Linked DNA regions of Homo sapiens. The protein of the gene in region 3 interacts with the protein of the main gene of each other region in a biochemical or structural test. Each region holds a gene or a part of one and is shown on either strand. Other genes may lie near its edges.

Region 1 (3,599 bases), on a different chromosome or scaffold from region 3:
AACACAGCAAGACTCTGTGTAAAAATAATAATAATAATCACTGATTAGCTATTAGCACATTACCTTCTAGTCGCTTTTCCCTATGAATATATAATTCTTAAAATATCCTTCTTATAAGCTGTAGAGTCATTTGAGGGACTAGTTTGCTCTGATTAGTTACCTTTTCTTTTCATTTCAAAGATCTTCCAAGCACAGCCACTTCTGTGAACATCCCTGACCTGCTTCCTGGCCGAAAATACATTGTAAATGTCTATCAGATATCTGAGGATGGGGAGCAGAGTTTGATCCTGTCTACTTCACAAACAACAGGTACATGTGTGCTACATAGTGTTAAAAGAATCTTTTTCTGTAAAACACAGGCCTGTAGTAGCACTTCCTGACTGTTTGCCCCACTTTCTTTCTTTCTTAGCGCCTGATGCCCCTCCTGACACGACTGTGGACCAAGTTGATGACACCTCAATTGTTGTTCGCTGGAGCAGACCCCAGGCTCCCATCACAGGTCAGCTAAGCGTCCCCCTCTTTGGCTGCTATGTTAATCTTAATGACATCAGCAGGGAGGGCGCAGATTCTGACTGCGGACCTGCATATCACTTTAAATCTCCAATATAATTTATGGGAGAGGGGTTTGTGTGTGTGTGTGTGTGTGTGTGTGGCGGGGGTGGGGGAGTTATTTTCTATGGCACATTTCCCCTTGAAACCATTTCACCAACTCCCTTATACACACACACCACAACATACACACAACCTGTAAAGCCAGCTCATTGGCTTATTAAAGCAAGTGTTCCCAGGGTTGAAGAGGTGTAATTTCCTGAAAACGTTGCTCTAAGATTTATCCTTAAGGAGAAAGCTGAGCTGTCGTCTTAGCTCATTAGGTGATTCAACTGCCTCATCACTGAAGTTCCAAAAAGACACACACAGTGCTAGACAACTCTGCTTAGGCTGGTTCATTAATTGCTTCCCTCGTCTGGAGCTCAAAGAGGAAAAATCAGCTTAACATGAATATTTTCACCTAATGGCATCTCTAATTGACATTTATTAAGGATGTCAGGTCTTCAAGGATGACATTTATTATTAAAAAGGTTCGCATGACTGTTCTTATTTTATCTTCGTGCTGAATAGTCATTATTAGAAGAAGTGGCAATATTCAAAGAGTCAAAAAGTATCACTGGCTCTTCACTAATCAAGCAAGATGCTAAGGGATATTAGAAAAGGGAGGATTTATGGTGTTTCTAAGCCTCTGTCTCAAAGAAAACAGTGCATCTTACTTTTGCTCATGAATCTGCAGGGTACAGAATAGTCTATTCGCCATCAGTAGAAGGTAGCAGCACAGAACTCAACCTTCCTGAAACTGCAAACTCCGTCACCCTCAGTGACTTGCAACCTGGTGTTCAGTATAACATCACTATCTATGCTGTGGAAGAAAATCAAGAAAGTACACCTGTTGTCATTCAACAAGAAACCACTGGCACCCCACGCTCAGGTAACTTTTTTAAGAAGACACTTCCTATGTTATCTTATCAGGATTGTTCCTGAAGGAGGGTTGTTTTGTCTCTGTCAACAGTCCTCTCATTCAAGAAATCTTATATATTAGTTTTTCCCTAAACTTCTGATATTTAGCTGAAATGTCATAAGTAACTTATCAAAGCTGGCTACTGGCCTTTCTGATTAAAAACTGACACCATAACGTCCATCTACAAATTTTCCCCTAGAAGCTTAAGGGTCATTTCATTTTTGATTCTTAAGTATTATAAAATGATTCAGTAAAACAAAAACTGTTACATTATTTTCTGCAGTTATTTCAAAGGCTTTTTCTAAAAAATTTTTTAGTATCTTTTCTTATAACCCTCTCCCCCCACCACCATATGACACTTCATATGCTGGTAACTCACTTATTACCTATTTTAGATAAAAGGTTCAAATGTCATAATTTAAGCACTATGACTGGACCATGAAAATGTGATCTGATTAAGAGACAAAACTTAGCAAAACTCTCGAATGAGAGGCTCAATGAACTGCCTAACATATCCAAGAAACTGGCTTCTTAAAAGTAATCTTCAGCAGAGAATGTGAATGACCAGTTGACTCTTGTCTGTCAGATACAGTGCCCTCTCCCAGGGACCTGCAGTTTGTGGAAGTGACAGACGTGAAGGTCACCATCATGTGGACACCGCCTGAGAGTGCAGTGACCGGCTACCGTGTGGATGTGATCCCCGTCAACCTGCCTGGCGAGCACGGGCAGAGGCTGCCCATCAGCAGGAACACCTTTGCAGAAGTCACCGGGCTGTCCCCTGGGGTCACCTATTACTTCAAAGTCTTTGCAGTGAGCCATGGGAGGGAGAGCAAGCCTCTGACTGCTCAACAGACAACCAGTATGTCTTCTCCTATCTCTATCTCCCCTCCAAATTCTCCACCCTCACTTGCAGCCTGTGAGAAAGTGCAGTAAACCATTCACTCAGAGGTGTATGGCTTAGAGAGAGGGAAATACCCAGCCGGCAAGGGAATGCATAGTGAACACAAAGCACATTAAACTTGAAAACAAAACTCAGACAAGCTCCATGGATGCTAAGTGGTAACCCATTTCTAAAATACATGTACCAGCTGAAGGGTACTAAGAGGGGAGAACTGAAGAGAATCTAATTTGAGTGCATTTTTCGTGTAACTAAATATATCTAGATCAAAGTTAAAATGCAGGATCATAACACTTAGAGTAGAATTCATTTAACAATAGCAATTGTCAAGTGTCTAGTATTACTAGCCACCAGCTTATCTGCTCAGTTTTTACAAGCATTATTCTCATATTTACTCTTTGTTTTGACCTTAGGAAGGAAGGTCTTATTATTATTATTTTATTTATTTATTTTTTTGAGATGGAGTCTCGCTCTGTCGCCAGGGCTGGAGTACAGTGGCACCATCTCAGCTCACTGGAACCTCTACCACCTGGGTTCAAGCAATTCTCCTGCCTCAGCCTCCCGAGTAGCTGGGACTACAGGCGTGTGCCACCATGCCCTGCTAATTTTTGTGTTTTTAGTAGAAATGGGTTTCGCTGTGTTGGCCAAGCTGGTCTGAAACTCCTGACCTCAAGTGATCCACCCACTTTGGCCTCCCAAAGTGCTGGGATTACAGGCGTGAGCCATCGTGCCCAGCCGGAAGGTCTTACTAGTATCCGTATTGAATACTTAAAGAAACTGAGGCTTTAAAAAAGTTCTGCAACTTGTAGGGTCACAGAGATAGGAAGGGATAGAGCTGGCTCTATAACCTATGTCCGAAGCCCATGCTCTCAATTATTATACTCGACTGCCTCTTAAAGATTTCCTCTATTTGAAAGGTAATTTAAATTTCGGTGGGAAAACTGCTGGTTATTATTCTCAAGAATAAACTCCACAACTTATGTGATTCTGATAGTGCAAACTCACCAGTATCCTACCATGAATCTGAGGATACGTTATCATTACTGTAATTACTGTCTAATCTGAACCATGTGAAAATAACTTTTATTTCTCTAGCAAAGGGCTATTCACAGAATATTGCTTTTGACCCATAGAGAGCTTCTTCTTGCTGTCATTTTAGGAGGCATATCCCTTTTTCCTTAATCTGTTTGG
Region 2 (3,599 bases), on a different chromosome or scaffold from region 3:
AGGTGGGGACAGGCATTGGGCCAGAATGAAGGTTTGGTGGTTGGAGCCCACAACTGTCAGAGCAAAGTACAGAGTCAAGAGTTCCAAAGCCACAGACCCCAGACCCCCCCAGGCCAAAGAGAAGCTGCACTTACGGAGGCACCAGCAGGCCCAGGGGACCCAGGAGTACCAGGTTCACCGCGAGGACCTTGAGCACCTTCAGGACCACGGGCACCAGTGGGGCCGGCTTCACCCTGGGAAGAGACAGGGAGGATGAAATGAAGAAGAAGAGAGGGGACACAGACCTCTAGTGGGTGGGCAATAGCTCAGGGCCAGCTGCAAGCACAGCACTAAATTATGCACATGCACCCAACCCTGCACATGAACATGTGCGTTCACACACAGTTCACGCTGCCGTTTTTCTCCCTGCCTGACCGAGCTGATGACTTGATGACTTCCCACGCCTGCCTCCTCTACTGCTTACCTCATCTCTACACAGTGAGCCTCCACATGCCACGGCACAGCTACATACTACAGCAATGGGCAACCTGCTGTTCCATCGACACCATCAGAAAAGCGTGGGCTGGGGACCCTGCCATCCTGGCACCGTGGGATGATGGACGGACACCGCTCTCTCCCCCACCTCCTGTTTTTCTATTTTATTGAGGAGCTGAGGTCCCTTCTAAGTCTCTGAACATCCCAGCTCAGAGCACCACCTCACTCCCATCTGGCTGACGGGTGAACAGTGACACCCTGGCTCCGGCCCCAGTCTGTTCTCAGTAAGCCAGAAAGCCAAGGCAAAAGCACATGGGGACTCTGCCCCTCCCTGCTCTCAATACAGCCCAATTCCCCTTAGCGGGCGCCTCTGGCAAGCCCCCTCCCCACAAAATGGCTTGTGCTTTTACTTTCATTTTTTCCTGAAAATTACAACCCACTCTAGATGGCAGAGTCCCTGGGGAGGGCTGCTGACCTGGAGAGAGGGCAGAGCCTCCTCAGGTTTCTTCTCAGAACATTCCTGCTTCACTGTGGTAATTATTATTTTCAAAAGGTCAGCCCCCCTCACCTTCCGCTGTCCCTCTTCACAATGGGTCTCCTTCACCCGGCTCCGGGACCTCAGACACTGTCTGGTTGCCATGGAAACCCCCAGGAGGGGAAAAGCAACCTGATGCCAGTGACACATGGAGGCTCCTTATTCATTCCCAGGGACGTTCACACTGGAATCCTTCCTGGGCTGCGAGGCCTGTCCCTGAACTGGCTGGCCTCCCACTGGCCTCTAGTAATCCTCCAGAGAACTCCGTTAACATGGTTTGGAAGAGCCAGGCACCCCAAATAAAGCAGAAACCCAGAGGGGAGCAGGGGCTCCCTGCCTGTGCCCTTTTCCCTGCCCAGTTCCCTCCAGTGCCCGTCAGGGCCCCGAGCTTGCTCAGCTGTTGGGTCTCCCCTAGGTTTGCTTCCCTGTGCTGCCACTCCTGGCCTTCTGCCCCTGCCAGGCCTATGGTGTATCCCCGTCTTCTTCTCTGTCCACCTTTCCCCACTCCAAAGTTGTAACTGGATCTCCCACATTTTATCTTCTGTCTTACTTTCCCTCCAGGTGAGACTGCGAGTGTCTGGCTTTTTGCCCTGCCTGGATGGAGGGGCCAGTGGGTGGGGTGGTGGGGAGCTACTTCTCAGAAGGGAGCAGGTGGTTGTTGAGGGAGCAATGAGCAAGGGTTACGGGGAAAGGACAGCTTCTCGGCACCCAGAAGTTCCTGACTGGACAACAGGGCACGTACCTTGGCTCCAGGAGCACCAGGGAAGCCAGGACCACCAGCAGGACCGACAGGACCCTGGAGAGAGTAGGCGGATGAGAAGAGAGGTGAATGCCAGTTCTGGCCTCCAAAGCGAGCCACCCCGACACCTCACACTCCTTCCCTCCTCTGTACTGATTTCACTCCATATCCATTGTGGCTAAAAGGCCTTGGATGAAAATTGTCCCCATTGCCAGCGTCCCCAGGAAACTTTGCCTGGCTTCAGAAGGCAAAGCAAGTTTCTGACTACATCTGTGGTGAGAAGCAGAAACTCCTTTGACCTCCCTCCTCTAAAAAGACTGCTGAAAGGATGGCTGAGGAAAATGAGCCCATGCTTCAAAGCTTGTTATCGATATGCTCAATTGATATTTACAAACTTCTTCTCTTTCCTCCCCCTTTCCAGTAGACATCAGAGTGCTGCTGTGGTTGCACCCAATACACCCTGCAGACTGCCTTGGGCTGCTTAACGGGACTTAAAGCACAGCAACAATGACCTGCTGAGGATGAAATGAACTTACCGGAGGCCCTGCGGGGCCTGGCTGACCATCGTTGCCTCGGGCACCCTGTGAGCAAGAAGGAAGTGACCATGAGAGGTGCCCACAGGCCCTGTCCGTCCCTGCTCCCAGCCCACCCTTACAGAAAACGAAGGACACACTGTGCCTGGGGTGTCCCAGGGCAGAGCACGAGGATGGCGAGGTGTGGGCTGCAGTTTTGGTGTCTGTGCGAGTGGGTGGCCAGAAGGCAGTAATGGGCTTCTTCTAATCTTTTTTTGTTGTTGTTTTTGAGACGGAGTCTGGCTCTGTCGCCAGGCTGGAGTGCAGTGGTGCGGTCTTGGCTCACTACAACCTCCACCTCTCAAGTTCAAGCAATTCTGCCTCAGCCTCCTGAGTAACTGGGATTACAGGCATGTGTCACCACACCTGGCTATTTTTTTTATTGTTATTTTTAGTAGAGACTGGGTTTTGCTATGTTGGCCAGGCTGGTCTGGAACTCCTGACCTCAGGTGATCCACCCGCCTCAGGCTCCCAAGGTGCTGGGATTACAGGCGTGAGCCACCGCACCTGGCCCCTAATCTTAAACAAAGCTTAAATCATTTTCTCTTTTCTTCAACTTCAGTTCAGACCCCAAATATCCGTAACTTCAAGGCCAAGTGATCATTTAAAGACTGAGAGAATTGAGTGTAAGGAAATGAAACAGCGAGGCAACCATGTGGACTCAGTGCTTCCTGCCTGCTCAGGGGGAAGCGCTTTCAAGGCTTGGTTAACCTCTGTGGTTAAGGCTTGGTTAAGGCCTCCTCTTGGTTGACTCCAGGTTGCCTCTTCCTCTGGCCCATCCCCAGACAGCCTGCTCTTACGGAAAACAAAGATGCCCATAGGATGTCTACCATTGGCTCCCTGATGGGGCAGGGCACCAGCCACAGCTCAAACACTACATCTGAGCTCAAGCCCTAAGAGGCTTTTGCTTACAAAGCAAGGCAAGGTTGCCAGCTCCTTCTCTAGGACTGGACTTGGAGGGGGAGGGTTTTTTCTGCCAAGTTTGTGGTGGCACCCCTCAAATGCTCTCTCAAGGTTCCTTAAGGCCCAGGGAACTCTTTACCGAAACTCTGGGGGCCACAGGCTGGGTGGAGCTGGGCCTAGGGCCTGACTGAGCAGGTCAGGGGGGTACCTTTTCCTGCTGAGTCCTGCCTGTCAGTCTCTGCCTCTCCTTAGAAGCTAAAGAAGGATGCTTTAGGGGGAGCTCGTGTTTTAAATACAACTCAACTCTTCTTCCTGGCTGGGGTCCATTTCTCCTAACGGAGACTCTCCAGATTGGCATTTAAGAGGAAAGCAAGAG
Region 3 (3,500 bases):
CTGCTGCCACCACCAGGGAGGCTGGAAAGGAGTTCCTGCAGGTGCCCAAGACCCCCAGAGAGAGTGTGATGCCCTGATTGGCCTGTGAGGTTTCCCCAGCGCCCCCTGGAGTTTAGAGCCCTGAATGCCATCTCCCTTCTCCACCCCTGGCCTCTCACCCTCGCAGCTCCACTTGGGCCTCTGCCCGGACCGGCACGTCCAGCAGCACAATCTTGCTGTTTGGATTCTGGCTGTTCTTGCTAGAGGGGAGGGGATGAGGAGAAACAGGGCCAGGGACACCAGCCCAGTGACTTTCTGGGGGTGAGGCCAGAATTTTAGAGAGTTCAGAGAGAGCTAATTATACAAAGAGCATGCCACACTGAAGTTAGACCTGGGAAAGAACTTCCTCTAGGGCTCCAAGACTCAGACATAAATCTCTGAGGAAGAAAGGGAACCAGGCTTCTTCAAAGACCTTTTTTTTTTTCTTTTGAGATAGAATCTCGCACTGTCGCCCAGGCTGGAAGGCTGGAGTGCAGTGGCCCAATCTCAGCTCACTGCAACCTCCACCTCCCAGGTTCGGTTCAAGCTATTCTCCTGCCTCAGCCTCCCGAGTAGCTGGGATTGTAGGTGCGCACCACCATGCCCAGCTAATTTTTATATTTTTAGTAGAGATGGGGTTTCACCATGTTGGCCAGGCTGGTCTCCAACTCCTGACCTCCAGTGATCCTTCTGCCTTGGCCTCGCAACGTGCTGGGATTACAGGTGTGAGCCACTGCGCCTGGCCTCGAAAGACCCTTCTGTATGGAAGGGACCTGAGGGGCTCTGCACGGGGGTCAGACGGGGGAAGGGTGGTGGGTAGGCACGCTCGCCAGGTCAGTACCTCCGTATCTGCAGCTGGAAGGACACAGACTCCCCAGCCTCTTCCAGATTCCCCACGCTCACCAACATCGCGATTCCTATCTGGGAGATGAGGAGGGCCAAGGTCACTGCCCAAGTGCCCCACTTAGGACAGCCCTGCCCTGAATGTGGCCTCCAGTCTTCACCCTCCAAGATCACCACTATTCTTTTTCTTTTTTTTTTTTTCCGAGACGGAGTCTCACTCTGTCACCCAGGCTGGAGTGCAGTGGCATGATCTCGGCTCACTGCAACCTCCACCTCCCAGGTTCAAGTGATTTTTCTGCCTCAACCTCCCGAGTAGCTCTGACTATAGGCGTGCGCCACCATGCCCGGGTAATTTTTGTATTTTTAGTAGAGACGGGGTTTTGCTATGTTGGCCAGGCTGGTCTTGAACTCCTGACCTCGTGATCCACCCGTCTCGGCCTCCCAGAGTGCTGGGATTACAGGCGTGAGCCACCGCACCAGGCCACCATTATTATTTCTATTTTACCTGGAAGCCCACTGGGTAAAGGGGCTCAGAGAGGGAAAGTCACTCACCCAAGGACATGTGGCAAGGGAGTGTGAGGACCAAGATTCTGGCCCAGAACTATGTGGCTCTAAAACCTCACCCCTAAAATCTGGTTATTCATGAGCCCCTGGTGGAGACCCGGTACCACGACCCAGCAGCCTCACCTGGGCGTTCTTCTTCATGGGGTTGCCCAGCTCACACAGCACCACCCTGGTCTCATTCTCCTTCTTCTGATTACAGATGAGTCTCTCAAAGCCCTTCAGGAAGGCAGTTCCAAGAAAGAAATTACAGAGCATCATATATATATATTTAAGCTCCCTTGGAAGGTCTGGAAAGATTTGTGTGCCAAGGTAGGGAGGGGGGGGTTTCTTGGGGTGGGGTCTCAAGGGACTGTCACATGCTAGTGTGTGTATTGCTGTAGCACTACTACTTTTTAGGCATTTTCATTTTGGAAATAAAAAACACAAAACATTAGAGTATGACCCCCATTATTATAAACTATATTAACAACATAAAAAATAAATATATACTTATGTGAGTGTGAGTCAATATTGAAAAAAAGACTGGAAGGAAATCCACCAAATGTTAACAGAGGTTCCTGTTAACATTTGGTTCCTAAACCTTTTTTGTTTTTCTGGTTTTTGTAATAGAGTTTTGGAATTCTGTGCCATTAGCAAGTATTCCTCCTCCAAATTAAAAAAAAAATAAAAAATTACATCTTTGACAGCAAAGCAGAAGAGAAGAGGGACTCTCAGGGAGGGAGATGAGAGAGCCAAGGCTCCAGTGCCTCCCAGGTCCCGGGTACTGTTCCCAGGGTGGGGGCCATACCTCGACATTGCTTAGGGCCCGCATGTAGTGGGCGCCCTGGGGCAGGTGCACGGCCAGCTCTGCTTCATAGGCCCCCTCGCCCTCGTTGGCTGCGTCCATCTGCAGCTCCAGGACATTATCTGCCCCAACTAGGAGCGGGGAGCCCGTCCTGTGGGGAAAGAGGAGTGAAGCCAGGGAGCCTGGGTCTGGGCCCAGGATGTGGGAAAAGAGGGGACTAAGGTGTGGAGCAGGTATGATAGGCAGAAAGGGCCAGGGTCGGGCAGAATGGGAGGCCTCCTCACACGCTGGCAGTGAGCTGAAGCTGGGGCACACATACGTCATCTTCCCCACAGTCCAGGACGATTCGTGTCTAGAGGGGCACATTGGGGTGTGCGGGTAAGTTGGGGATGTGTGAGGTTTAGGGATTACATCAGGGTTAGGAAAACAGTGGGCTTGGGGTTCACATAGGGGCTTAGGGAGTAAGAAGATCTGAGGACGAAAAGGAGTTTGTAGATGGTATCGGGGCTCGGGTTTATTTGGAGGTTTGGGACAATGTCAGGGTTTGTCAATTTACATCAGAGCTTAGGGGATACTGGGATTTTCAGGTGTTTATTTTATTTTTGGAGACGGAGTCTCGCTCTGTCGTCCAGGCTGGAGTGCAGTGGCACTATCTCGGCTCACTGCAAGCTCCGCCCCCCGGGGTTCACGCCATTCTCCTGCCTCAGCCTCCCAAGTAGCTGGGACTACAGGTACCCGCCACCACGCCCAGCTAATTTTTTTTTTTTTTTTGTATTTTTAGTAGACGGGGTTTCACTGTGTTAGCCAGGATGGTCTTGATCTCCTGACCTCGTGATCCACCCGCCTTGGCCTCCCAAAGTGCTGGGATTACAGGCGTGAGCCACTGCGCCTGGCTTTTTTTTTTTTTTTTGAGACAGAGTCTTGCTCTGTCACCCAGGCTGGAGTGCTGTGGCACACTCTTGGCTCACTGCAACCTCTGCCTCCTGGGTTCAAGTGATTCTCCTGCTTCAGCCTCCCGAGTAGCTGGAATTACAGGCATGCGTCACCACACCCGGCTAATTTTTTTTGTATTTTTAGTAGAGATGGGTTTTCACCATGTTGGCCAGGTTGGTCTCTAACTCCTGACCTCAGGCAATCTGCCTGCCTCGGTCTCCCAAAGTGCTGGGATTACAGGTGTGAGCCACCATGACTGGCTGGATTTTGAGGTTTTCATTAGGGTTTGGAATGACATCAAGGTTTTGGGGTTCACATTGTGACTTGGCACTAACCCTAATCCTGATTTGCTATCAGG
Region 4 (3,599 bases), on a different chromosome or scaffold from region 3:
GCAATGGCGCGATCTGAGCCCACTGCAACCTCTGCCTCCCGGGTTCAAGCAATTCTCCTGCCTCAGCCTCCTGAGTAGCTGGGATTACAGGCATGTGCCACCACGCCCAGCTAATTTTGTATTTTTAGTAGAGACAGGGTTTCTCCATGTTGGTCAGGCTGGTCTCAAACTCCCAACCTCAGGTGATCTGCCTGTCTCAGCCTCCCAAAGTGCTGGGATTACAGGCGTGAGCCACTGCACCCAGCCACCATCTACCACTTTCTAGCTCCATGAGGGCTCTTCTCTCTGAATGCTGAGGGAAAGCTCTGGAGACAGGTAGTGGGGGTGGCTCCCCACAAGGCCATGTGGGATTACTGGCAGGCAGATAACCAGCAATGCCAAAGGGCAAGTGTACAGGGCCCCTCGGTGGCAGCAAACCCAGGAACATCAGGGGGTTGAAGGCAGCTCTGTCCACATTGGCCACCCTGGTGCACTGGACTCAGCACTGAAACCAATGGCTGAGTTGGCAGTGAAGTAGTTAATCTCATGGGATGTGGGGGCAGGCAAGTGACCTCAGACCTGATCAGTCTTCTCCTCTGTACAGTGGGAATAACAGCAGCTCCCACCCCACAGGGTGAGAACGAAGCATAGAAAATACTCAGCAAGGGGCTGGTCCCTTGTAGCCCTAGGTGGTGGTTAAAAGGACAAGTCCATAATGCAAGAATCTGTCAGGCTGCGCATTTAAGATTTGAGCACTCAGTGTATCTCCTATATTTGTTTTTGGGGTTTTTTTATTATTACTTTTTTTTTTGAGACAGGGCCTCACTCTGTCACCCAGCCTGCAGTGTAATGGCTCAGTCACGGCTCACTGCAGGCTCTATGTCCCGGGCTTGAACAATCCTCCCACCTCTGCCTCCTGAGTAGCTGGGACTACAGGTGCATACCACCACACCTGGCTAATGTTTTTATTTTTTGTAGAGGGTTTTGATGTTGTCCAGGCTGGTCTCGAATTCCTGTATTCAAGCAATCCCCCCAACTCGGCCTCCCAGAGTATTATTATTTTTTTGAGAAAGAGTCTCACTCTTGCTCAGGCTGGAGTGTAGTGGTGTGATCATAGCTCACTGCAACCTCAATCTCCTGGGCTTTAAGCAATCTTCCTGCCTCAGCCTCCTGCTTAGCTGAAACTGCGGGCATGGGCCACTATGCTCAGCTAATTTTTTAATTGTTTTATTTTTTGTAGAGATTGGGTCTTGCTATGTTGCCAAGGCTGGTCTCTAATTCCAGGCCTCAAGCGATCCTCCAACCTCGGCCTTCTAAAGCACTGGGATTACAGGCATGAGCCACCGTTCCCGGCTCTCCCTATGTGTGTGTGTGTGTGTGTGTATATATATATATATATATATATATATATATATATTTTTTTTTTTTTTTTTTTTTTTTTTTTTGAGACAGAGTCTCACTCTGTCGCCTAGGCTGGAGTGCAGTGGCATGATCTCAGCTCACTGTAACCTCTGCCTCCCAAGTTCAAGAGATTTTCCTGCCCCAGCCTCCCAAATAGCTGGGATTACAGGCATGCGCCACCGTGCCCAGCTAATTTTTGTATTTTTAGTAGAGACGGGGTTTCACCATGTTGGCCAGGCTGGTTTCAAACTCCTGACCTCAAGTGATCTGCCTGCCTCGGCCTCCCAAAGTGCTGGGATTATAGACGTGAGCCACCATGCCCGATCGCTCCCCATATTTTCTTTTCTTTTTTCTTTTTTTTTTCTTAGACGAGTCTTGCTCTGTCACCCAGGCTGGAGTGCAGTGGTGCAATCTCGGCTCACTGCAACCTCAGTCTCCCGGATTCAAGCAATTCTCCTGCCTCAGCCTCCCAGGTAGCTAGGATTACAGGCACACATCACCACCACGCCTGGCTAATTTTTTTGTTTTGTTTTGGAGACAGAGTCTCGCCCCGTCGCCTAGGCTGGAGTGCAATGGCATGATCTCAGCTCACTGCAACTTCTGCCTCCCGGGTCGAAGCGATTCTCCTGCCACCATGCCCGGCTGATTTTTTTGTACTTTTAGTAGAAACGGGGTTTTACCATGTTGACCACGCTGGTCTTGAACTCCTGACCTCAAGTGATCTACCCGCCTTGGCCTCCCAAAGTGCTGGGATTATAGGTGTGACCCACCGTGCCTGGCCTCATTTTTTTATTTTTAGTAGAGATGGGGTTTCGCCATGTTGGCCAGGCTGGTCTCGAACTCCTGACCTTGTGATCCACCCACCTTGGCCTCCCAGAGTGCTGGGATTACAGACGTCAGCCACCTCACCCAGCCTCTCTCCCCATATTTTATACCTCAATTTAGAAAATAATAGGCTGGGCACGGTGGCTCATGCCTGTAATCCCAGCACTTTGGGAGGCCAAGGTGGGCAGATCACCTGAGGTCAGGAGTTCGAGACCAGCCTAGCCAACATGGCAAAACCCTGTCTCTACTAAACATACCAAAATTAGCTGGGCGTGGTGGCAGGTGTCTGTAATCCCAGCTACTCAGGAGGCTGAGGCAGGAGAATCATCTGAACCTGGGAGGCGGAGGTTGCAGTGAGCTGAGATTGTGCCACTGCACTCCAGCCTGGGCAACAAAGTGGGACTCCATCTCAAAAAAAAAAATAATAATAATTAAAAAAAATAAATTGGCCGGGCATGGTGGCTCACGCCTGTAATCCCAGCACTTTGGGAGGCCGAGGCGGGTGGATCACGAGGTCAGGAGATCGAGACCATCCTGGCTAACACGGTGAAACCCCGTCTCCACTAAAAAAAATACAAAAAATTCTCTGGGCGTGGTGGCAGGCGTCTGTAGTCCCAGCTACTCAGGAGGCTGAGGCAGGAGAATGGCGTGAGCACGGGAGGCGGAGCTTGCAGTGAGCGGAGATTGCGCCACTGCATTCCAGCCTGGGCGACAGAGGGAGACTCCGTCTCAATCAATCAATCAATCAATCAGTCAATAGATAGATAAATAAAAAATAATAATAGCTGACATTTATCTGGCACTATCATCACACGGGGCCACTGTTCAACTCCCTTTGTCAAGATGAACTCATTCATTCCTCAAAACCACCCCACTTTACAGATGAGGAAAACTGAGGCCTAGAGAGGTGAGATCAGTTACCCAAAGTCACAGAGTTCATCAGAGACCAGGCTGGGCTCTGAACTGGATCTTGACCCCAAGTCCTGGCCCTTAGCCACTTTGCTGGGCTGTGTCTCAGCAGAGACGAGAATGACTGTTTTCAAGCCTGTTTCCTGGGTTGTTAAGTGGAGACAATGGATACAAGGCAGGTTGCCGAGTGAGTCAGATGAGACAGTGTAGACAGCAGCCGGCACAGGGTCTGCCGGGGAAGTTTCAACATTAGCCAGGCGGTGATGTTCACCTTGGGATACCATGGGGCCGAGGAGTGGGCATCGGGCGAGACTTCCCTTGAACCAGCTCTGGAGCAATGCCCTTGCGATTGCCACGGAGAGGAACAGGGCCAGCTGGGGGCCAAGGTGACAGCTGAGCCCCCCAAGGGCACCTGCTACCCGAGCCCCCGAGGCCTCCATCCCAGGCCCGGCCTCCCCAGAGAAGGGGCCAGAGGAACAGCCAAA
Region 5 (3,599 bases), on a different chromosome or scaffold from region 3:
ACCAGCACCGCCTGTACCAGCAGATCAAAGCCGGCGCCTATGATGTGAGTGTCGCTCCTCTCTTCAGCTCCCATCATCCTCTGGTGCCCTTCCAGTGAAAGCCAGCGCCAAGCCACTCTCTAGTTCTGGCACAGGGGTGAACCCCAGGGGAGCATGAAGACTGACCAGGGCCAGGTGGTTACCATGCTGTGCCTAATGATTGGAGATTTATCTTGCCCCAGAAGGCAAGAAGCAGCACCAAAATGGAGTGAGGAGTAGGGGAGAGGCGCCTCCCAAGCCAGGGTTTCTCTGTTTCTCTCTCATATATACAAATAATAATAGCTAACAATTCTATAGCACTCTCTGAATGTTTTACACATATTATTACATTTAATCCTCACACCAATCTATGATATAGGTGCTGTTATTATTCCCATTTTACATATAGAGAAGCTGACATACAGAGAGGTCAAGTAACTGCCTAGATCACACAGCTAAGAAATGGTAGAGGTGGGATTTGAACCAGGCAGTCTGGCTCTACCATCCATGCTTCTAACTACCAAGCTATATTGCTTTTATGCAGATAGCTATTAAGCTCTGTGCCGTATGTTTTATATTGTATTTAATTCTCACAACATCTCTAGAGATAGCTCAAGAGGTCATGTGACTTACCCAGGTTACACAGCCCAGGAGGCAGAGCCAGGACTTGAATCCAGGCCTTTTGATTCTGAAGTCTGGGCTAAAGCCACTGACCGGCTGCTCTGCAAATAAGGCACAGTCTCAGAAAGATGGTTGGAGGGAGGCCTCCTTTCCCTCTGCCGTGTTCTGATTTGTATGGGGCTAGGGCCCTCCCCTGCAGTGAGGAGCCCCAACTCCTCCTGGTGTGGATGTCCGAGTGGATGGGCAGTAGGACCCCTGCCTGCTCCCCTGCCAGTCAGGGGCTGGGGGATCGCAGGGGTGGCCTGGGGCAGGCTGGGCAAACCTGGCCTCTCTGCCCCTTCCAGTTCCCATCGCCGGAATGGGACACTGTCACCCCGGAAGCCAAGGATCTGATCAATAAGATGCTGACCATTAACCCATCCAAACGCATCACAGCTGCCGAAGCCCTTAAGCACCCCTGGATCTCGGTGAGCCTTCCTCAGCAGGACTTCTCCCAGGAGCCCCTCCAGACCTCATGATCCAGGCCCCCACAGAGTTCTGGCCCTTCCCCTGGCCCATGGGGCCAAGAGGGCTTAATCCAAGAGACTGCCCCTGCTGTGGTTCTCAGGGGTAATGTGGAAACGAGGAGTGAGTGTTCTGGGTTGGCATACAACTGATGGTGCTACTGGCATTGAATGTCTGGTGCCAGGATGCTAAACACCCTGAAGCATCTCCTAGAGCAATGAATCGTTCTTCCCAAGATGTCAACCACACCTCCATTAAGATGCCCTGCTGAAGGGTACCCTTGGGTGGGCCTGTCTTCCAGCCTGCCTTCCACTCACAGCCCTCTCCCCTACTTCCTCCAGCACCGCTCCACCGTGGCATCCTGCATGCACAGACAGGAGACCGTGGACTGCCTGAAGAAGTTCAATGCCAGGAGGAAACTGAAGGTAACAGGTCCTCACCCTCCACAGTCCTGGCCATGGGACTAGCTCTGCCTGGGTCTCCACAGAGGCCAGGAGACTCGCTCACTAATTCTTTCCTTCATTGATTCAATAAGCATTTATTGAACACCTACTGCATACTGGACAGCAGGTTGGGCTTGGGGAGTGAGCGGTGAATGACTGAGCCCTTGCTCTAGTGGAGAGGACAGACAAGTTCCTGGGGCGTTATGGGGCAGTGGTGAGTGCCATGCCTGGGAAAGCCTCAAGATGGTGGCAGAATGCAGCAGGACAATGGTATTCTGGGTCTGGAGCCAGGGGCGTTTAAGCTGAGACCTTGGAGGATAAGCAGGTATTAGCCAAGTTAGAGTCAGAATGGGAAAGTGTGGCCGGGCGCAGTGACTCATGCCTGTAATCCCAACACTTTGGGAGGCTGAGGTGGGCAGATCACCTGAGGTCAGAAGTTCAAGACCAGCCTGGCCAATGAGGTGAAACCCTGTCTCTACCAAAAATACAAAAATTAGCCAGGCATGGTGGCACATACCTGTAATCCCAGCTACTCAGGAGGCTGAGGCAGGAAAATTGCTTGAACCTGGGAGGCGGAGGTTGCAGTGAGTGAGATCGTGCCATTGCACTCCAGCCTGAGTAACAGAGAGAGACTCTGTCTCAAAAAAAAAAAAACAAAAAAAAGAATGGGAACGTGTTCCAGACAGAGGAAGCAGCCTGTGCAGAAGTTTGGAAGTGCGCCTGACCCCTTAGGGGCACCACAAGTGGTTCAGAGTGGCTGGGGAGAGCTTTTGGGGGTGAGACATGACTGAACGTGAGACCCTGGTCAGGGAGGCGCCCCAGCTGCCCAGTACTGTGGAGGAATGGCTGAGGCACTCAGACAGTGATTGTGGCCCTGAGGAAGCTCAGTGGCACCCAGGTGGTCCCAGAGCTTCACACTCTTGCAGGTTCTGTGTGCTCTCAGGGTGGTGACAGCTCCTGGCCTGGCCTTTGCCAGGCACTGAGGGGCCCCTGGCCAGTGGAACAGAGGAGCCGTCAGCACGCTGGGGATGATGAGGGAAGAGGCGGAGGCCCCAGCTCTTGTGGAACCTCCTTATCTGCTGCTCCCAGGCCTGGAGTGGAGGCTTAGGATGGGGACACAGACCAAGGGGTGGTGGCCAGCATGATGCCAGGAGAACTGAGTCCCATCCCCATCCTGCAGTGGAAGCTGTGTCACAGAGGAAGTCTCAAAATATCAGAATCAGGGATTCTTAACATCATAAGCAGTGGGATTCAGACAGTGTCAAGTCAGGTCTGAATCAGATGGCTCTGGAACAAAAGGGGCCATTAGCCCCCAGCCTGCTTGTTGATGGAGGAGGCTTTCTCTACATTGAGAATCCTCCTGGGATTCAAAAGATTATAAATCATGGTGCTATAAAGACACATGCACACATATATTTATTGCGGCACTACTCACAATAGCAAAGACTTGGAACCAACCCAAATGTCCAACAATGATCGACTGGATTAAGAAAATGTGGCACATATACACCGTGGAATACTATGCAGCCATAAAAAATGATGAGTTCCTGTCCTTTGTAGGGACATGGATGAAGCTGGAAACCATCATTCTCAGCAAACTATCGCAAGGACAAAAAAACAAACAGCGCATGTTCTCACTCATGGATGGGAATTGAACAATGAGAACACTTGGACACAGGAAGGGGAACATCACACACCGGGGCCTGTTGTGGGGTGGGGGGAGGGGGGAGGGATAGCATTAGGAGATATACCTAATGTAAATGACGAGTTAATGGGTGCAGCACACCAACGTGGCACATGTATACATATGTAACAAACCTGCACGTTGTGCACATGTACCCTAGAACTTAAAGTATTATATAATATATATATATATATAAAATAAAAAACTTGGAAATAAAAAAAAAAAAGAGAAAATCCTCCTGGGATTCTCTGAGCCCAGGGGCCATGGAGGGATGAGCTAGTCCTGGAGCAAGATGCTCTCAGCACGGGGCAGAGGGCTAAGAGGTGGAG
Region 6 (3,599 bases), on a different chromosome or scaffold from region 3:
TACTCAACAGACATTTTACAAAGTTCCTGCTACGTGCCAGGCACTATATCAGGTGCTGGGGATTTTAAGAGAATCAAATACAGTCTCTGCCTTCAAGGAATTCAAAATCTCAAAAGAGAACAAAAATACAAAATATTAAAATGATTGCGGCCGGGTGTGGTGGCTCAAGCCTGTAATCCTAGCACTTTGGGAGCTGAGGTGGGCGCCCAGGCCAGGGGTTTGAGACCATCCTGGCCAACATAGTGAAACCCCCAACCTCTACTAAAAATACAAAAATTAGCTGGGGTGTGGTGGCACGCGCCTGTAATCCTAGCTACTAGGGAGGCTGATGGGGGAGAATTTCTTGAATCTGGGAGGCAGAGGTTGCAGTGAGCTGAGATCATGCCACTGCACTTCAGTCTCGGCAACAGAACAAGACTCATCTCAAAATACATAAATAAAAATAAATAATTCAATAAAGTGATTGCAAGAAAAGTTCTGTTCAAGGCACCAAGAGACCACAGGAAAATGAGTGTCTGGTTTGCCAGAAAAATGAGAGATGGCTTCCCAGGAGAGGCAGAGTTCTGCCTGGCCTGGTGGGATGCATGGATGAACAAACAAGTGGGCATTCCAGTCAGAAGAAACAATCCGTGGAAAGACCCAGAGGCATGAGAAGCTGAGCTAGCAGGGACAGGTAGACCAGGGCCAGTTGAAAAGGACCTTCATCACTTTTTCATCCTGCTGGCCAAGAGAAGCCACAGAATGGAAGCTCCATGAGGGCAGGGCTGTGACTGTCCTATTGGTTGATGTGTACTGAGCACCCGACAGTGCCTGTCATATGGTAGGCACTTAGCGAATATTTGGAGGCCACTGTTGAGTGAATGGGAGAACTGCTGGTTGCAGAGGAAGAGGGGCTGGGTGAATGCAGGTTCAGGATTGTGGACCTGCATGAGCTGGGAGGTGGGGGATAGACAACTTTGCAGGGAGAGAGGAAATAAGTCCCCAGGCTCCAAGGCTGACCGGGGTGGGGTCTCCGCAGGTAACTGTGCTGAGGGTCTGGGTACGAACTACCGAGGGCATGTGAACATCACCCGGTCAGGCATTGAGTGCCAGCTATGGAGGAGTCGCTACCCACATAAGCCTGAGTGAGTGAGGGGCCGGCCTTCCCACCATGGGCTGAGAACAGGGAGCAAGCGTACCTCAAGCCCAACAGCCTCCTGTTGGGCAATTTCCTGTTCCAGAATCAACTCCACTACCCATCCTGGGGCCGACCTACAGGAGAATTTCTGCCGCAACCCCGACAGCAGCACCACGGGACCCTGGTGCTACACTACAGACCCCACCGTGAGGAGGCAGGAATGCAGCATCCCTGTCTGTGGTAAGCTGGGGGCAGTGGGGCGGCCCATGGCCAAGGCCCGGGGGCTTCATGGGGCCTGGCAGCCTGGGATGGGAACCAAGAATACTGGCTACCCAGGCACAGTGGCTCATGCCCGTAATCCCAGCACTTTGGGAGGCTGAGGCAGGCAGATCACCTGAGGTCAGGGGTTTGAGACCAGCTGGGCCAACATGGCAAAACCCCGTCTCTACTAAAAATACAAAAATTGCCAGGCGTGGTGGTGGGCGCCTGTAATCCCAACTACTCTGGAGGCTGAGGCACGAGAATCGCTTGAACCCGGGAGGCGGAGTTTGCAGTGAGCTGAGATCCTGCCACTGTACTTCAGCCTGGGCGACAAGAGCAAAACTCTGTCTCAAAGAAAAAAAAAAGATGCTGGCCACCTTCAGAGCTGGCGTCAGTCATTCAGATCATATCTGTGCCTATTGCTCAGTAAAGTCAGGGAATCAGGGGATCTGAGTGGGGGGATCTGCCAGCCTCCTCCTCCCCCTCCCCACTCTTGACTTCCTTATGGTCCAGGCTGTGGCTCATTCCAAACATGCCTCCTTTCTGATCAAGGCACTCCTCCCTCCGGGAAGCCCTCCCTAGCCATTTCAGTCCACACACCCTGTTCTGAGTATCACAGAGCAAGCCTTGTGCAGTTTGGCCCTGCGGGATTCTGTCATTATTATTTCCTTGGTGTGTTAAGTAGCTATAGCCACCCCTTCCCTGAGGCAGACCACAATAAGCATTTCTTTTTCCCATGAGGGTTGGCAGGTGTGGCTGCACTCGCTAATGCGTCTGTAGGGTCAACTGACGGAGGTTGGCCCTGGCTGGGTGGCTCTGATTCAAATAATGGGTCCAGCTGAGTCTGGCTCCTCGTTGAGGGTTGGGCCTAGATCTGCTCCACGTGCGTTCATGCTGGGGCTGAGGCTGAAAGAAGGTACCTGGGAAAACTCTTCTTATGCTGATGACAGACACAGAAAACAATGAACAGAAAAGCGTCTTCTGTCCTGAAGGCCTGGCTCAGAACAGGCACAGTCAGCCCTGCCCACGTTCCATTGGCCAGAGCAAGTATATGTTCAAGGCCAGGGTCAAGAGGTAAACTACACCTCAGCCTGTAAAATCACAGAGCAAGGGATGTGGATGCAGGCAGGGGTAAAGAATTTGTGCCGATTACCAGTCCACAAACATGGGTTAGTGTTTGTTCTCTAGGCATCCCTGTCGGGCCCATTGCTCATTCCTGGGGTTGGTCTTTTTTTTTTTTCTTTCTAAGATGGAGTCTCACTCCCTTGCCCAGGCTGTTGGAGTGCAGTGGCCCTATCTCAGCTCACTGCAACCTCCGCCTCCTGGGTTCAAGCGATTCCCCTGCTTCAGCCTCCTGAGTAGCTAGGATTACAGGCGTGTGCCACCACTCCTGGCTAATTTTTTTTTATGTTAGTAGAGACGGGGTTTCACCATGTTGGCCAGGCTGATCTCAAACTCCTGACCTTGTGATCCTCCCGCCTCGGCCTCCCAAACTGCTGAGATTACAGGGGTGAGGCACTGCGCCCGGCCTTTTTTTTTTTTTTTTTTGAGATGGAGTCTCACTCTGTCACCCAGGCTGGAGTGCAGTGGCATAATCTTGGCTCACTGCAACCTCCACCTCCTGGGTTCAGGCGATTCTCTGCCTCAGCCTCTCATATAGCTGGGATTACAGGCACACGCCACCACGCCTGGCTAATTTTTGTATTTTTAGTAGAGACGGGGTTTCTTCATGTTGGCCTGGCTGATCTTGAACTCCTGACCTCCGGTGATCTGCCCAGCTCGGCCTCCCAAAGTTCTGGGATTACAGGTGTAAGCCACTGCGCCTGGCCCCTGGAATTGGTCTTATAGCAAGTTTATCCCAACAAAAACAGCTACTATTTACTCCCCAACCCCCATACACACGCACACACATTGATGATAAATAAGTTGCAGGCTTGCAGAAATTGACCCATCCAGGTGAACAGCCTAGTGATCCCAGCAAGCGTCCTGCTGTGCAGCTATAAAAACATGACTCCTCCAGCAGCTCCAGGCAGCCACTACCAGTTAATTACAGATGGCCTAGGAGGCCAAACCTGGTTACTATCTCTGGTTTATTATGTGCCAGACACTTATGCTGTATATTTTGTTTAATCCTCTCAACAAACCTGCAAAAGTGGCATTAGTAACCCCTTTAAAGGCAAACGGTCAGAAGCCCAGAGAGGTTAAGTAACCTGAGGTCACA

Evidence for each region.
Region 1: the proteins of ITGA2B (region 3) and FN1 form a complex in vitro, tested with the Homo sapiens proteins (one study listed by BioGRID).
Region 2: the proteins of ITGA2B (region 3) and COL2A1 form a complex in vitro, tested with the Homo sapiens proteins (one study listed by BioGRID).
Region 4: of the proteins of ITGA2B (region 3) and PRKACA, one has a biochemical effect on the other in vitro, tested with the Homo sapiens proteins (one study listed by BioGRID).
Region 5: of the proteins of ITGA2B (region 3) and CAMK2A, one has a biochemical effect on the other in vitro, tested with the Homo sapiens proteins (one study listed by BioGRID).
Region 6: the proteins of ITGA2B (region 3) and F2 form a complex in vitro, tested with the Homo sapiens proteins (one study listed by BioGRID).

What each region holds. Positions count from the first base shown.
Region 1 is NC_000002.12:215,405,008-215,408,606, reverse strand, and holds part of FN1 (fibronectin isoform 1 precursor), read left to right. Parts: intron 1-180; coding exon 181-309; intron 310-409; coding exon 410-499; intron 500-1,285; coding exon 1,286-1,480; intron 1,481-2,096; coding exon 2,097-2,369; intron 2,370-3,599. UniProt on the Homo sapiens protein: Fibronectins bind cell surfaces and various compounds including collagen, fibrin, heparin, DNA, and actin. Fibronectins are involved in cell adhesion, cell motility, opsonization, wound healing, and maintenance of cell shape.
Region 2 is NC_000012.12:47,987,477-47,991,075, forward strand, and holds part of COL2A1 (collagen alpha-1(II) chain isoform 1 precursor), read right to left. Parts: intron 2,330-3,599; coding exon 2,285-2,329; intron 1,806-2,284; coding exon 1,752-1,805; intron 234-1,751; coding exon 135-233; intron 1-134. UniProt on the Homo sapiens protein: Type II collagen is specific for cartilaginous tissues. It is essential for the normal embryonic development of the skeleton, for linear growth and for the ability of cartilage to resist compressive forces.
Region 3 is NC_000017.11:44,376,150-44,379,649, forward strand, and holds part of ITGA2B (integrin alpha-IIb preproprotein), read right to left. Parts: intron 2,562-3,500; coding exon 2,494-2,561; intron 2,361-2,493; coding exon 2,213-2,360; intron 1,642-2,212; coding exon 1,549-1,641; intron 940-1,548; coding exon 860-939; intron 240-859; coding exon 159-239; intron 36-158; coding exon 1-35. UniProt on the Homo sapiens protein: Integrin alpha-IIb/beta-3 is a receptor for fibronectin, fibrinogen, plasminogen, prothrombin, thrombospondin and vitronectin. It recognizes the sequence R-G-D in a wide array of ligands.
Region 4 is NC_000019.10:14,107,763-14,111,361, reverse strand, and holds part of PRKACA (cAMP-dependent protein kinase catalytic subunit alpha), read left to right. Parts: intron 1-2,971; exon of another isoform or gene 2,972-3,377; coding exon of another isoform or gene 3,378-3,599.
Region 5 is NC_000005.10:150,248,195-150,251,793, reverse strand, and holds part of CAMK2A (calcium/calmodulin-dependent protein kinase type II subunit alpha), read left to right. Parts: coding exon 1-44; intron 45-983; coding exon 984-1,106; intron 1,107-1,484; coding exon 1,485-1,568; intron 1,569-3,599. UniProt on the Homo sapiens protein: Calcium/calmodulin-dependent protein kinase that functions autonomously after Ca(2+)/calmodulin-binding and autophosphorylation, and is involved in various processes, such as synaptic plasticity, neurotransmitter release and long-term potentiation.
Region 6 is NC_000011.10:46,722,162-46,725,760, forward strand, and holds part of F2 (prothrombin preproprotein), read left to right. Parts: intron 1-1,018; coding exon 1,019-1,124; intron 1,125-1,220; coding exon 1,221-1,357; intron 1,358-3,599. UniProt on the Homo sapiens protein: Thrombin, which cleaves bonds after Arg and Lys, converts fibrinogen to fibrin and activates factors V, VII, VIII, XIII, and, in complex with thrombomodulin, protein C. Functions in blood homeostasis, inflammation and wound healing.